Homo sapiens: one gene and its partners. The protein of the gene in region 1 purifies or fractionates together with the protein of each later gene. This does not show direct contact. Each region holds a gene or a part of one and is shown in the gene's direction. Other genes may lie near its edges.

Evidence for each region.
Region 2: the proteins of ERMAP (region 1) and AKAP11 purify together in Homo sapiens (affinity purification with mass spectrometry; 2 studies listed by BioGRID and IntAct, with this or other methods). This does not show direct contact.
Region 3: the proteins of ERMAP (region 1) and AP3B1 purify together in Homo sapiens (affinity purification with mass spectrometry; 2 studies listed by BioGRID and IntAct, with this or other methods). This does not show direct contact.
Region 4: the proteins of ERMAP (region 1) and SAR1B purify together in Homo sapiens (affinity purification with mass spectrometry; one large-scale study listed by BioGRID and IntAct). This does not show direct contact.

Annotation. Positions count from the first base shown.
Region 1 is NC_000001.11:42,842,921-42,845,847, forward strand, and holds the end of ERMAP (erythroid membrane-associated protein precursor), read left to right. Parts: coding exon 1-312; 3' UTR 313-2,071; downstream 2,072-2,927. UniProt on the Homo sapiens protein: Possible role as a cell-adhesion or receptor molecule of erythroid cells.
Region 2 is NC_000013.11:42,299,652-42,303,151, forward strand, and holds part of AKAP11 (A-kinase anchor protein 11), read left to right. Parts: coding exon 1-3,500. UniProt on the Homo sapiens protein: Binds to type II regulatory subunits of protein kinase A and anchors/targets them.
Region 3 is NC_000005.10:78,221,699-78,225,198, reverse strand, and holds part of AP3B1 (AP-3 complex subunit beta-1), read left to right. Parts: intron 1-3,500. UniProt on the Homo sapiens protein: Subunit of non-clathrin- and clathrin-associated adaptor protein complex 3 (AP-3) that plays a role in protein sorting in the late-Golgi/trans-Golgi network (TGN) and/or endosomes.
Region 4 is NC_000005.10:134,605,329-134,608,828, reverse strand, and holds part of SAR1B (small COPII coat GTPase SAR1B), read left to right. Parts: intron 1-325; coding exon 326-457; intron 458-1,762; coding exon 1,763-1,879; 3' UTR 1,880-3,500. UniProt on the Homo sapiens protein: Small GTPase that cycles between an active GTP-bound and an inactive GDP-bound state and mainly functions in vesicle-mediated endoplasmic reticulum (ER) to Golgi transport.

The DNA of each region.
Region 1 (2,927 bases):
AATGTGACCAACAAGTCCCACATCTTTACTTTCACCCACAATTTCTCTGGCCCCCTTCGCCCTTTCTTTGAACCTTGCCTTCATGATGGAGGAAAAAACACAGCACCTCTAGTCATTTGTTCAGAACTACACAAATCAGAGGAATCAATTGTCCCCAGGCCAGAAGGGAAAGGCCATGCTAATGGAGATGTGTCCCTCAAGGTGAACTCTTCTTTACTACCCCCGAAGGCCCCAGAGCTGAAGGATATAATCCTGTCCTTGCCCCCTGACCTTGGCCCAGCCCTTCAGGAGCTCAAGGCTCCTTCTTTTTAGGGATATGCCACATTACCTGCTCCCATCACCATCCAGCCCAGCACCCTGGACTTCAGTCGCCTGGCCCAACCCCATGATTATGGAACGTCTCTTCACCTTAACCCAAATCCAGACCCTTTTGTGGTTTCTATTTGTACCACTTTTCTCCCAGGCCTCAGTTCTGAAGCTTACCTTTCTTCTAAGGAATTGAAGCTCCCAGTGACCTGGAGGGAGGATTCCTGGAAACCAAACAATCAGTTTAGGTGCAGGTGGAGATGTTGAATATGTGTTACCAAGATACAGCACAGGTTCAGGGAAAAGAGTTCGCTACTCCAGGGGTTATTTAGAAGACACTTTCTCTGCCTCATCCTGCCCTCAAGCTTTAGTCAAGAAGTTATGGCCCCCAGTCCCTGACTTCTTACTTATCCCATTGAGGACTGCCTTTCTCTCTCTCAGTTCTGGCCTCTGCCCCCCAAAGTCAGCTCTCTAAAAGCAAGCATGTTTTAGACCACTCACTCTTTCCCTCTTTCTTCAGGAATGAATTGGGAAAGGCTGATGAGTAAAACATACCATCCTTTTCTATTTTCTTGATGCTGTTTACAACATAGTTTGGTGATATCCAGAGCTAATGTACATGCTTTCAAAAGCTAATCTGCCTGTTGATGGTAACTAGGTACAGCGACTTTAAATACAGTTGCTATAATCCTGAAAAGCCCCAGGAGCACATCAGGGAGCTGGGAAACACAGTTGCAGAGAACTCAGCTGTATGTTGCCCTCTGACCTTGGCCCAGACCTTCAGAGGCTCAGTCTGTTGAGTCTGTTGTGACTGTCTTATGAATCAATCTGTTGTGCCAACCCTTTCTGAGATTCAGAGAGGTCCAGCTAGAAAAAGTGGCAGTTTTAACCACCAACGTAGAAGCTTTTTTTTCCCCACAAGACCATTGTACTGCAATACTTGAGTATTTGTGTAGCAAACAGCCTCTTAGGTTGGAGAGTATTGATTTCAAATAGGAAGTTGGTAGACTAGGTGTGAGGATGAAATAATGACCTTGATTTTTGGGTGTGTATTGCAGAAGCCTCGTCGCTTTCAAGTCACATCATATATGCGATCTGGCCTAACCATGGAGATATTGGTTATCAGTTTGCAGATGAATACACAGTTCTATCCAACAGAAACTGTATCTTTCTGTTTGTCAGAAGTTCTCCGTTAGTTCCTGTATTAGTCAAGGTTTTCCAGAGAAACAGAATCAATATATATTGGGGCAGGGGGGCGGTGGTTATTATAAGGAATTGGCTCACGTGATTATGGAGGCGGTTAAATCCCAAGATCTGCAGGATAAGTCAGCAAGATGGAGTCCCATGAGAGCTGATGGTTTAGTTCCAGTCTGATGGCAGCAGGCTTGACGCCAAGGAAGAGATGATGTTTAATTCAAGTCCGAAGGCAAGGAAAAAGCTGATGGTCCTGTCCAAAGGCTATTAGGCAGGAAGAATTCTCTTAGGGCAGAGTTAGCTCTTTTGTTCTATTCAGGCCTTCAACTGATTCAGCAAGGCCCGCCCACATTTGGGAGGACAGTCTGCATTACTCAGTCTACTGATTTGAATGTTAATGTCATTGAGAAACACCCTCACAGGAACACTCAGAATAATGTTTGACCAAATAGCTGGGCATCTTGTGACCCAGTTAAGTGGATACATAAGATTAACTATCACAGTGACTCAGTGGAATTTTTTGTTTGCTTTTGTACAGTTTTAAAATAAAAGTTTGGTATTTGTGTTTTGGTATGCTGTTATTTTCATTGTGAATGAGGAGTTGTGGGGAAGGTAAGAGATTGGTTTCCAAAGAGCTTTGAGTCCCCCAAGGCAAGGTTTAGCCACCGTTCATACTAAAGCCATAGTTTTATTCCTGAGTCTGCTCTCTAGTATTTTATTTTATCAATTTATAAACAAATAGTGTTCATAAGGCACACATATTTCACTCAACCATATTCAGTTCCAAACATGCATTCCTGAATATCCCAATCTTAAAACTAACTCACATTGTCAGCTTGTGGAGGCAGAATACATGCATACATATACACATACATACATGAATATACATATAATATACACACACATATGCATACATACACATATACACATGTATACATGTATGTGTATATACATATCTGTACTACATAGGTGTATATATATGTATATGTATTTAGCATGTATGCACGTGTATATGTATACACATATATACATATGTATGTATAATACATATTCACACATGTATGCATGTATATACACATGTATACATTAGTATATGTATATACACATGTATGTGTATTATACATGTATATATGTACATACATATCAGTCTACTGATTTGAATATTAATGTCATCAAGAAATAACCTCAATATATGTATGTATTATAACCTTACAACTATATAAAACATACATACATATATATGTATATATGTATACACATACACATGCATGAGAATATATGTATGTATATATAATATCCTCACAGTAATTCTGCCAGGGATTTTATGGGGGAGGGAGTTGGTACTCCAAATGGCTAGGTGGTAGAGCCAGAGTTTTATACTTGGTTTATCTAGCTCTGAAGGCAATGCTCCTTGTTCTTTGCACTGA
Region 2 (3,500 bases), on another chromosome or scaffold:
TCCTGCCTACTCATCTGAATCAGAATGTTCAAGTCCAAGTCCTGTTATTTTCTTGGATGAAGAGGGATATCAAAAAAGCTTAAAAGCAAAACTTGAGCTGCCTAAAATTCCTGTGATGAAAGATGATATAGAGGATTCAGACTCAGAAGTAAGTGAATTTTTTGATAGTTTTGATCAGTTTGATGAACTAGAACAAACTTTAGAGACTTGCCTGTTTAACAAAGATCCCGTCATAGGGAAGTCATCGCAGAGGAAAGGGCACAAACATGGAAAGTCATGTATGAATCCTCAAAAATTCAAGTTTGATCGTCCAGCTCTCCCAGCTAATGTTAGAAAGCCAACTCCTCGTAAACCAGAATCTCCATATGGTAACCTGTGTGATGCTCCGGATTCTCCTCGCCCAGTGAAGGCATCAAGGGAAGATAGTGGTTTATTTAGTCCTATTCGATCCTCTGCTTTTAGTCCTCTTGGAGGCTGTACTCCAGCTGAATGTTTTTGCCAAACAGATATTGGTGGAGATAGGATTCATGAAAATCATGATTCTGTTTATTACACCTATGAAGACTATGCAAAAAGCATTTCATGTGAAGTACTAGGCTCAGTTCTTCGTACCCACCATACTAATACCCTATCAAATATTAACAGTATTAAACATGGAGAAAATAAAACTGTAACTTTTAAGCATGGAAACCTTGATCAAAAAAATAAATCTAAAAATAAATCCTTAATGATTAAAGATAGCATTCAAAAATTTGCAGCAGATCTTGTGGAAAAAAGTTTTGGCAGTGCATTTAAAGACTTACAGAAAGGAGTCTCTTCATGTACCAATGCTTTGTACCACTTAGCCATCAAATTGACATCATCTGTTTTGCAGATGGCATTTGATGAGCTGAGAAGGCAGCGTGCATTTTCACTAAAAGAACGTGCCATTAGTGGCCTGGCTAACTTTTTGGTGAGTGAAGCTTTATCAAATGCCTTAAAAGATTTACAGTATGTAAAGAAGCAGATATTCACAAACACAGTTGCTAGGTTTGCTGCAGATCTTGCTGAAGAGCTTGTTTTTGAAGGCATCATGGAGGTGTGTCAGTTTTCATATCCTCAAACGCCTGCATCTCCACAGTGTGGGTCGTTTGACTTTGAAGACAAAGTAGTGAAGTTGTATGCAAAAGATTTGTCTGAATCTGTAATACAGGAAGCATTCATTGAGCTATCACAAGTTGATGTGACCTTTACAACAAAGGCAGCAGTTAGTGTCTCTACGGATAATATCAAGTATGTGAGTGCAGAAAGTGTAGTGCCATCGACACAGGCTGTCACGTTTTCCCCTTCTTTTCACAATCAAGCAATTATGGTGACAAAACCAGTGCAGGAATATAAAAAGGAATACACAGTGCAGCAGGCCTTGTTTTGTACTTCTGGAATTGTTACTTCTATACCGGTGCCCTTGGCAGGAAGTGCCCTTCTCCCATATCATATTTCATCTACTGCATGTCAGGCCAAGGCTCATCTGTCATCTGATGATAGTAATTCAAATGGTGATTCTGCCCAAGTGCATATTGCCACAAAAAACAGAGAAGAAAAAGCAGCTTGTCTCAGAAATATTTGTTTACCTTCAGAACACAATCCAGGTAATCAGAATGATTTTAAACCAACTAATGACGATATTGAAATGCAGAGTTCCTCAAAATTACCAAATGATCCTGCAATTATTAGCAACTTTTCTGCAGCAGTGGTGCATACGATAGTAAATGAAACTTTAGAGTCAATGACATCATTGGAAGTTACAAAAATGGTTGATGAACGTACAGATTATTTAACTAAATCTTTAAAGGAGAAAACCCCTCCATTTTCCCACTGTGATCAGGCAGTGCTGCAATGCAGTGAAGCTAGTAGCAATAAGGACATGTTTGCTGACCGGTTATCTAAATCTATTATTAAACATTCCATAGATAAGAGCAAATCAGTGATCCCAAATATAGATAAAAATGCAGTATACAAGGAAAGCTTGCCTGTTTCTGGAGAAGAATCACAGTTGACACCAGAAAAGTCTCCCAAATTTCCTGACTCTCAGAATCAGTTAACTCACTGCTCACTTTCAGCTGCAAAGGATTGTGTTCCAGAATGTAAAGTTTCTATGGTTCATGGATCCTCCCTAGAGACACTGCCATCTTGTCCAGCTGTGACAGGTCAGAAATCTGACTTGAAGGAATCTGCTAAGGATCAACCACTGAAAAAGCATAACTTGAATAGTACATCACTTGAGGCCTTGTCTTTTGGACAGGAAAACCCCTTTCCTCATTCACATACTTTCTCATCTACAGCACTTACCTGTGTAGATGGTTTGCATGTGGAAGATAAACAGAAAGTCAGAGACAGAAATGTAATACCTGATACTCCTCCATCAACTCCTCTAGTACCATCCCGGGCTAGTTCTGAATGGGATATCAAGAAGTTAACTAAAAAGCTCAAGGGAGAATTAGCCAAAGAGTTTGCACCTGCTACACCACCTTCTACTCCACACAACTCATCTGTTGGTAGTTTGTCTGAGAATGAACAAAATACTATAGAAAAAGAAGAGTTCATGTTGAAACTCATGCGATCTCTTTCTGAAGAAGTTGAGAGTAGTGAAAGTGGAGAGCTCCCAGAAGTGGATGTGAAGTCGGAGCACTCAGGGAAGAAGGTTCAGTTTGCAGAAGCATTAGCTACACACATCCTTTCTCTTGCAACTGAAATGGCAGCTTCCCATTTAGATAACAAAATAATTCAAGAACCCAAGGTTAAAAACCCTTGCTTAAATGTGCAAAGTCAAAGAAGTGTGTCGCCTACTTTTTTAAACCCCTCAGACGAAAATTTGAAAACATTATGCAATTTTGCGGGTGATCTGGCAGCAGAAGTCATTACAGAAGCTGAGAAAATAGCAAAAGTCCGAAATTGTATGCTTTTCAAGCAAAAGAAGAACAGTTGTTATGCTGATGGTGACGAAGATTATAAAGTAGAAGAGAAGTTGGATATAGAGGCTGTAGTGCACCCAAGAGAAGTGGATCCGTTTATTCTTTCATTACCACCAAGTTCTTGTATGTCAGGTCTGATGTATAAGTATCCCAGCTGTGAAAGTGTGACAGATGAATATGCAGGTCACCTTATTCAGATACTAAAACAGGAAGGTGGTAATAGTGAGTTGATAATGGATCAGTATGCCAATAGGCTTGCCTACCGATCTGTTAAATCAGGATTACAGGAAGCAGCTAAGACAACCAAAGTGCAGTGCAACTCAAGAATGTTCCCTGTGCCAAGTTCACAAGTGAAAACAAACAAGGAACTGTTAATGTTTTCAAACAAAGAGCACCACCAAGAAGCAGACAAAAAGAGACAAAGTAAAAGAAATGAAGGTTACTTTTGTAAAAATCAAACTTGTGAAAGGACCCTGGATCCATATAGAAATGAGGTCTCCCAACTGTATAGTTTTTCAACCTCTCTGGTTCACAGCATAACAAAAGATG
Region 3 (3,500 bases), on another chromosome or scaffold:
TTGTACCCACTTTATATTTCTCAAAACTACTGAGGAAAAGGATTCCAGCTCATCTTAGGATGCTATCATCAGGGAGTATGTACTATCTATGCATGGCAGCTATCTAATACAGTAGGCAGTAGCCCTGTGTAGCTGTAACTATTGGTTTATGGCTTAGCATTTGATCTATCCTGGATAATGTTCAATAAACATTTGATTAGAATGTGTATTCTGCTGTTGTTGAGTGGAGTGTTCTATAGATATCTGTTTTTTAGTGTTGTTCAAATCTTCTACTTTGCTGATCTTATGCCTACTTGTTCTATTCATTATTGAAAACAGGGTATTGAAGTCTCTTTAATTCTGTTAGTGTTTGCTTCATCTATTTAGGAGATTGGATGTTTGGTGCATGTATGTTTATAATTTTTTTAATCTTCCTTTTGTCATTGTAAAATGTTCCTCTTTATCTCTAGTAACATTTTTTTGTTTTAATGTCTGTTTTGCCTGTTATAAATACTACTATTCTAGCTTTTTTATGGTTGCTGTTTCCATTATATATCTTTTTCCATCCTTTTACTTTCAGCCTGTTTATATTTTTGCATCTATTGTATGTCTCCATAGACAGCATATAGTTGGCTCTTGTCTTTTTATCCAGTTTGCCAATGTGTGCCTTTAATTGGAATGTTTAATCCATTCACACTTATTGTTGTTATTAATATAGTTGGATTTTAAGCTGTCATTTTACTTGCTTTTATATGTTTCATGCCTTTTTTGTTCCTTATTTCTCCTTTATTGCTTTTTCTTAGATTAAGTGAATATGTTCTAGTGAACATTTTAATTCTTTTCATGGTTTTTTTACTATATATTTTTGAAAATATTGTCTTATACATGGAGATTATACTTGTAGTTTCATTCCTAGACCATTTAGTAAATTTCTGTTAGTCTGTAGTGTACCAGAAATCATTATTGCATTTCTTCTATGCATAGTTGGTATAACGTAGGAGGTAACTAAATATAGATTGATTATAAATGAAGATAGAGAAAAGAAATTTGATTCCTTTTTGTCTTCTGTATGACAGGCATGCTATCTGCCAGATATGAAGTCAATATTATTAATATTATGGTTAACTTGATTTTAATAATTTAAAAAAATACTTAGTGCTTTTCTATTATAAGTGCAAGAGATTGGCTAAGTACCATGGAGAGTAGTAAGATCTACAAGAAGCAGATCTGTCATTTTAATGAGTTTTACCATCATTTCTGCTACATTATAGACTAAGAGAAATTCTTTGGATGGCCTGGGAATGAACTCTCTCTGTATAATATGTGCATGTCTTCCCAGACAGGATACAGCATATCATAGGTAAAAACAATAGCGTTTGAATCAGATAGAACTGGCTTAATGTCTGAGCGTCTGCCACATAGTATATGTACCAATTCTTTATGAGTTTTAGGCTCCAGATTTGTAGGGTTTATAATATCTAATTTATAAATTTGCTGTTTGTGTCGAGAGAAAGAACTATTGTATATAAAACCCTCAGCACAGTGCCTAACACCACATGGGATGTGATTAAAAATTCCAAATAAGAAATAAGTACTCAAAAAGATGTAAAGATACAATATCTGTGTAAAATTGGAATGTCTGTTTCCAAAATACACCAGAAAGTAAAAAATATTGAATACTTGTTCATCACAGGTATTTAATATTTGTTGAATGACTGTTGAATTAATTTGTTACATTCTTGGTGATAGTAATTAAGTGTGTAGTATCGTTTTTAATGTCTCCCTCACCCCCCTGCAGTGGTTTCATGCTCAGTGTTCATAGGTAGATTCTTTGGGGGCTTTGGTGGCCTACCCTTTGTGAGGCACTCATTTTTCCTAAAGTGTTATATACTATATGTTTATTTTTTTTAATTAAGAATACATATTTCTTTTTCTGTCTATAGTAAAAAACAAAGTTTTTACTGACACCTGTAATTCTGGTGGTATAGCACAGAGTTCCTTCCAGCCTCCTTCCTTTTTATATTTGAAACTGCCTATTCAACATTAAGAAATGTGGCTCTGGCCACGCACCATTGTTCATGCCTGTAATCCTAGCACTTTGGGAGGCCAAGGTGGATGGATTGCTTGAGTCCAGGAGTTCGAGACCATCCTGGGCAACATGGTGAAACCTTGTCTCTACAAAAAAAAAAAAAGAAACAAACAAACAAACAAAAAAACAAGAAACAGGGCTCCTATTTCCACAATCTGTTTACATTTTTGCTGAGTCTCAGAATGCAGAGAAACTATTGCTTCAGAATTGCTAGCACTGTACCTCTGTGGGGTATACAGTAGCATGGGGCCTAATAATTAGAGTTAAATATTTAATTAGAGTTAAATATTAGTTTAGAGTTGTTTTTGTCTTTAATCTTTTTTTTAATGTATGGTAAATCAAAATTGCTTCAACTATTTATATCTTTGAACTCGTTGTGTTGGTATGTAAGAAAGCTATTGATTTTTTTTGAGTGATAAATTTTATATTCTGCTTTTTTACTGAATTCTTCTATTGTTTGAGTTAATTTTCTCATTCATCCTCCTTGGGTTTTTTTTTGCATGACAAAGAGTCTTTACTTTTAAATGATTATCAGTACACCAAGTAGTAACATGTAACAAGTTCTTGAATTCTGTCCTCTTTGATTAAGTAACTAAAACTGGCCCAAACAATTATACTAGTGTTCATTGTTCTAACCACTAGCAGGAATGGACTACCAGATATTGCAGAAAAAGGCCAAGACTTCACCCCTCTTCTGCCTAAACTGCTTCCAGATGGTTCTCTTCTCCTGGGTCTCCTCTACTTTAATGCTGCAGCTGCCTTGGGATCGCAGGGCAGCAGCCTCCTTGGCCTTGAACTCTTTCTCCCTCTGCAGGCAATATTGTTCAATTTCACCTTGAACTGCTGCTTTGGCCTGCTTCTCCCTCCGGTTCTTTCACTGCAGGTCTCAGACACCCTTTTCAGCAACCTGCAGCAGCTACTGGATCCCCTGAGACTGACTGGCCATGACAGCACCAACTCTGAGGCAGAAGCAAGCAGCCTAAATCTCTCTCTCTTTTTTTTTTTAGAGAATGAATCATATCTGCAAATAGAGATGTTTTACTTCCTCTTTTTCAGTTCCTAGAACTCTAATTTCTCTTGCCTAATTATATTGTTTAGTGCCATCACTACAGTTGTGTTCAATAGTAGTGGAGATGGTGGGCATTCTTGCCTTGTTTCAGTCTAAAGGAAATGCTTACATTGTGTTTGCATTAAGAAAGATGCTGGCCCTGAAGATTTTATCTTTGAAATATAGTACTTTTGCAAGGTACTTCAGGATTACTTGATATGGGTCAATTGTTTTGCCTTGGTACTCAGTGAGTCCTTTCAAAATGTAGATTCAGAATTTTTATTATCTCTGGCAAAGTGTTTTTTTTTAAGATTATAATTTTAAATATTAATTCTGTTATTTTTTTTCTTTTTCAGGGATTCCTATTTTATGCACATTGGATCT
Region 4 (3,500 bases), on another chromosome or scaffold:
CTTGCCCAAAGTCACATCTCAAAAGCAGTAGAGCCAGAAGTGAAACCACATCTGTTCACTTCTAAGGTGCTGGCTCTATACGTTCTATGTCACTCCTTTAAAGGATGAGCAGAGTAAACATTTACAGGAAGAGCCTTAGGAAGACAGAAGAATTTAGCTTATGGTTTCATTGAGGTCACTTTAAAATGTGGGGAAAGTTTGACAAAGAACGTTGGTATGACATGATATGGTAGAAAATGAGTCCTTTATTGTTTTATCATATCAAAATAAGCTCTTTGGATGGTTTCATATCAACTCTTGTTTTGTATTGTTTTGTTTTTTTCAGTCACTAATGACAGATGAAACCATTGCTAATGTGCCTATACTGATTCTTGGGAATAAGATCGACAGACCTGAAGCCATCAGTGAAGAGAGGTTGCGAGAGATGTTTGGTTTATATGGTCAGACAACAGGAAAGGTAAAAAAAAAAAAAAAATTATGATGGGTGTGTTTAATTCTACAGTACAAATGTCTTCTTAAATTACTATTGTCCAACTATACAAGCCCATTATCATTTTCTTAAAGAAAACTGTCATTTATACCTGTGGGTCTTTTTAATGTCCTCATTTCTTTCTACCATGGAATGAAACATTTTCTTGGTGACAACAAAAATGTCAAGGATGAGTTATGCCTAAGGCTTGTGCTTATAGGAAACTAAATTAAAGCTTTCAAAGTTATTTATCATACATTTTCAGAATTAGCCACCAAACGATATATTTGAGTGTTTAAGTATACCAGTAGTGTGTTTAGGCCCTGAGTTTACCAGAGATAAATAAGACATAAACTTGGAATATTTTACGGTTTTCTGAACATATACTTTATAATAAGCTTTAAGACGGATTGTTTTGGTATTCACTTTTCCTAGGATTTATTTTGGGGGAAACATCAGCATTGAAAAAATCCAGATAAACAGTGGAAGAACCCCAGAGATTTACAAAATTTTTTTAGTTTACATATACTATTTCAGGGTGGAGAAATACTGCAGCATATAGCAGGAGGCTCTTTTTTTTTTTTTTTGAGATGGAGTTTTGCTCTTGTTGCCCAGGCTGGAGTACAATGGTGCAATCTCGGCTCATTGCAACCTCTGCCTCCCAGGTTCAAGCGATTCTCCTGCCTCAGCCTCCCTGGTAGCTGGGATTACAGGCGTGTGCCAGCACGCCCAGCTAATTTTGTATTTTTGGTAGAGACGGGGTTTCTCCATGTTGGTCAGTCTGGTCTCGAACTCCTGACCTCAGGTGATCCGCCCGCCTTGGCCTCCCAGAGTGCTGAGATTACAGGCATGAGCCACCACGCCCGGTCCGCAGGAGGCTCTTAAGTCAGACAAAGTAGACTTTGGTCTGTTTTCTGTCTTCTTTTTTATAAATTAGCTTGATATTAATTTTAGGAAATGCTTTGTTTGGTCATAAACCTTCTCAGGGAATGTTTGTCTTTAATATTAGTGAAGCCAGTTTGGATTTTTTTCTAAGTCAGATTATTTTTATTCTTGGGTATCTTGCAAGCTAACCTCTTTCCCACTGAGTGGCCATCCTGCCCTAAGGTAGAGTGAGAGAAGGAGGCTTCTTGTGTGTTCATGGGGCTTGGATGCCAAGCAGCCACGACTTTATCACAGTCATGGATTTATCACAGCCATTCTTTGTTCTAAAATAGAACCTATAATTCTGCTGGGATGTGGGGCTTTATTAATTTTATAAAATTCCAACGAAATGTCTCTCTTCTATTCTAGGGGAGTATATCTCTGAAAGAACTGAATGCCCGACCCTTAGAAGTTTTCATGTGTAGTGTGCTCAAAAGACAAGGTTACGGAGAAGGCTTCCGCTGGATGGCACAGTACATTGATTAACACAAACTCACATTGGTTCCAGGTCTCAACGTTCAGGCTTACTCAGAGATTTGATTGCTCAACATGCATAACTTGAATTCAATAGACTTTTGCTGGTTATAAAACAGATGTTTTTTAGATTATTAATATTAAATCAACTTAATTTGAATGAGAATTGAAAACTGATTCAAGTAAGTTTGAGTATCACAATGTTAGCTTTCTAATTCCATAAAAGTACTTGGTTTTTACAGTTTATAATCTGACATCACCCCAGCGCCATTTGTAAAGAGCAACTTTCCAGCAGTACATTTGAAGCACTTTTTAACAACATGAAACTATAAACCATATTTAAAAGCTCATCATGTTAAATTTTTTATGTACTTTTCTGGAACTAGTTTTTAAATTTTAGATTATATGTCCACCTATCTTAAGTGTACAGTTAATAATTAGCTTATTCAATGATTGCATGATGCCTTACAGTTTTCAATAACTTTTTTTCTTATGCAAACGTCATGCAATAAAACAAACTCTAATGTTTGGCATCCTTGTTGGGCAAATGTTTCATTTAAATGTGTCTTATCTAGCTAGTATACTCTGAAAATTTGAGTATTTAATATTAGGCATATGAAGTGGTTGTTGGGAAAGGAGATTCCTTCAGAATATTTAGAATAGCGTTTAAGGCTCTCAAGGCTTAGGTATTTACCATGAGATGGTTGTGGTCAGTTGCACCTGATACCATGTATCCCTGAATCATGTGTATTTTTATTAGTAATGCAGCCACTACCATTGCTGATGGGGTCTGTGTCCTAGTCCCTGTGGGATTGGCCTTCTGAAGAAAAGCACATTTATGGTACACAAGGTTGATTCTCAGTTTGGTAGGCTCTATAGTTCCATCCCAGCTGTCTAATTCTGAAGTGCTCCAGTCTTATTGGTGCCCAATGGGGTAATCTGTGCCTCTTCCCCAAAAGCAATGACAGGCACCAGTGTCTCCACATTTAGATATATTCCCAGTCTCTGTACATTTAACAGTACTCTCTGGGGCAAGCAATAAGTAGGACCTTGTGTGCAGTTTCATTGTAGAGACATGTATATCTGAGGAATAAAACAGCTTGTTCTGTGTCAGTCTGAGATATGTGGAGATTTTGTTCCTATCCTATAGCTCTTTTGTATTCTTTGGCATATTTTATATCCTGGTAGAAGAAAACAAGTGCTTGTTTCCAATTTTCTTTTTTCTTATTTGCTCTCAGGTAGTTCTTACTCCATACAACAAAGACTTTTTGTTTGTTGGGCTTTTTTTTTTTTTTTTTTTTTGCTCTGTTTCATTTTGTTTTAGAGACGGGGTTTCACCATGTTGTCCAGGCTGGTCTCAAACTCCTGACCTCAAGTGATCTGCCCGCCTTGGCCTCCCAAAGTTCTGGGATTATAGGCGTGAGCTACCATGCCTGACCTGACTTTTGTTTTTAGATATTATGCTTGCCATGTGATAGGGCCTGCAAGCCTCATTGCTAGGCTTACTAAGAAAATTTTAGTTTTTCAAAAGCATTATAATTTCCTAAGAAACTGAATTCTTTTTTTATATGTTTGAGATTCCCATCATTAGTAATATAAGATGAAAGGTAAGTGCCAAAAATGTATTTTTAAA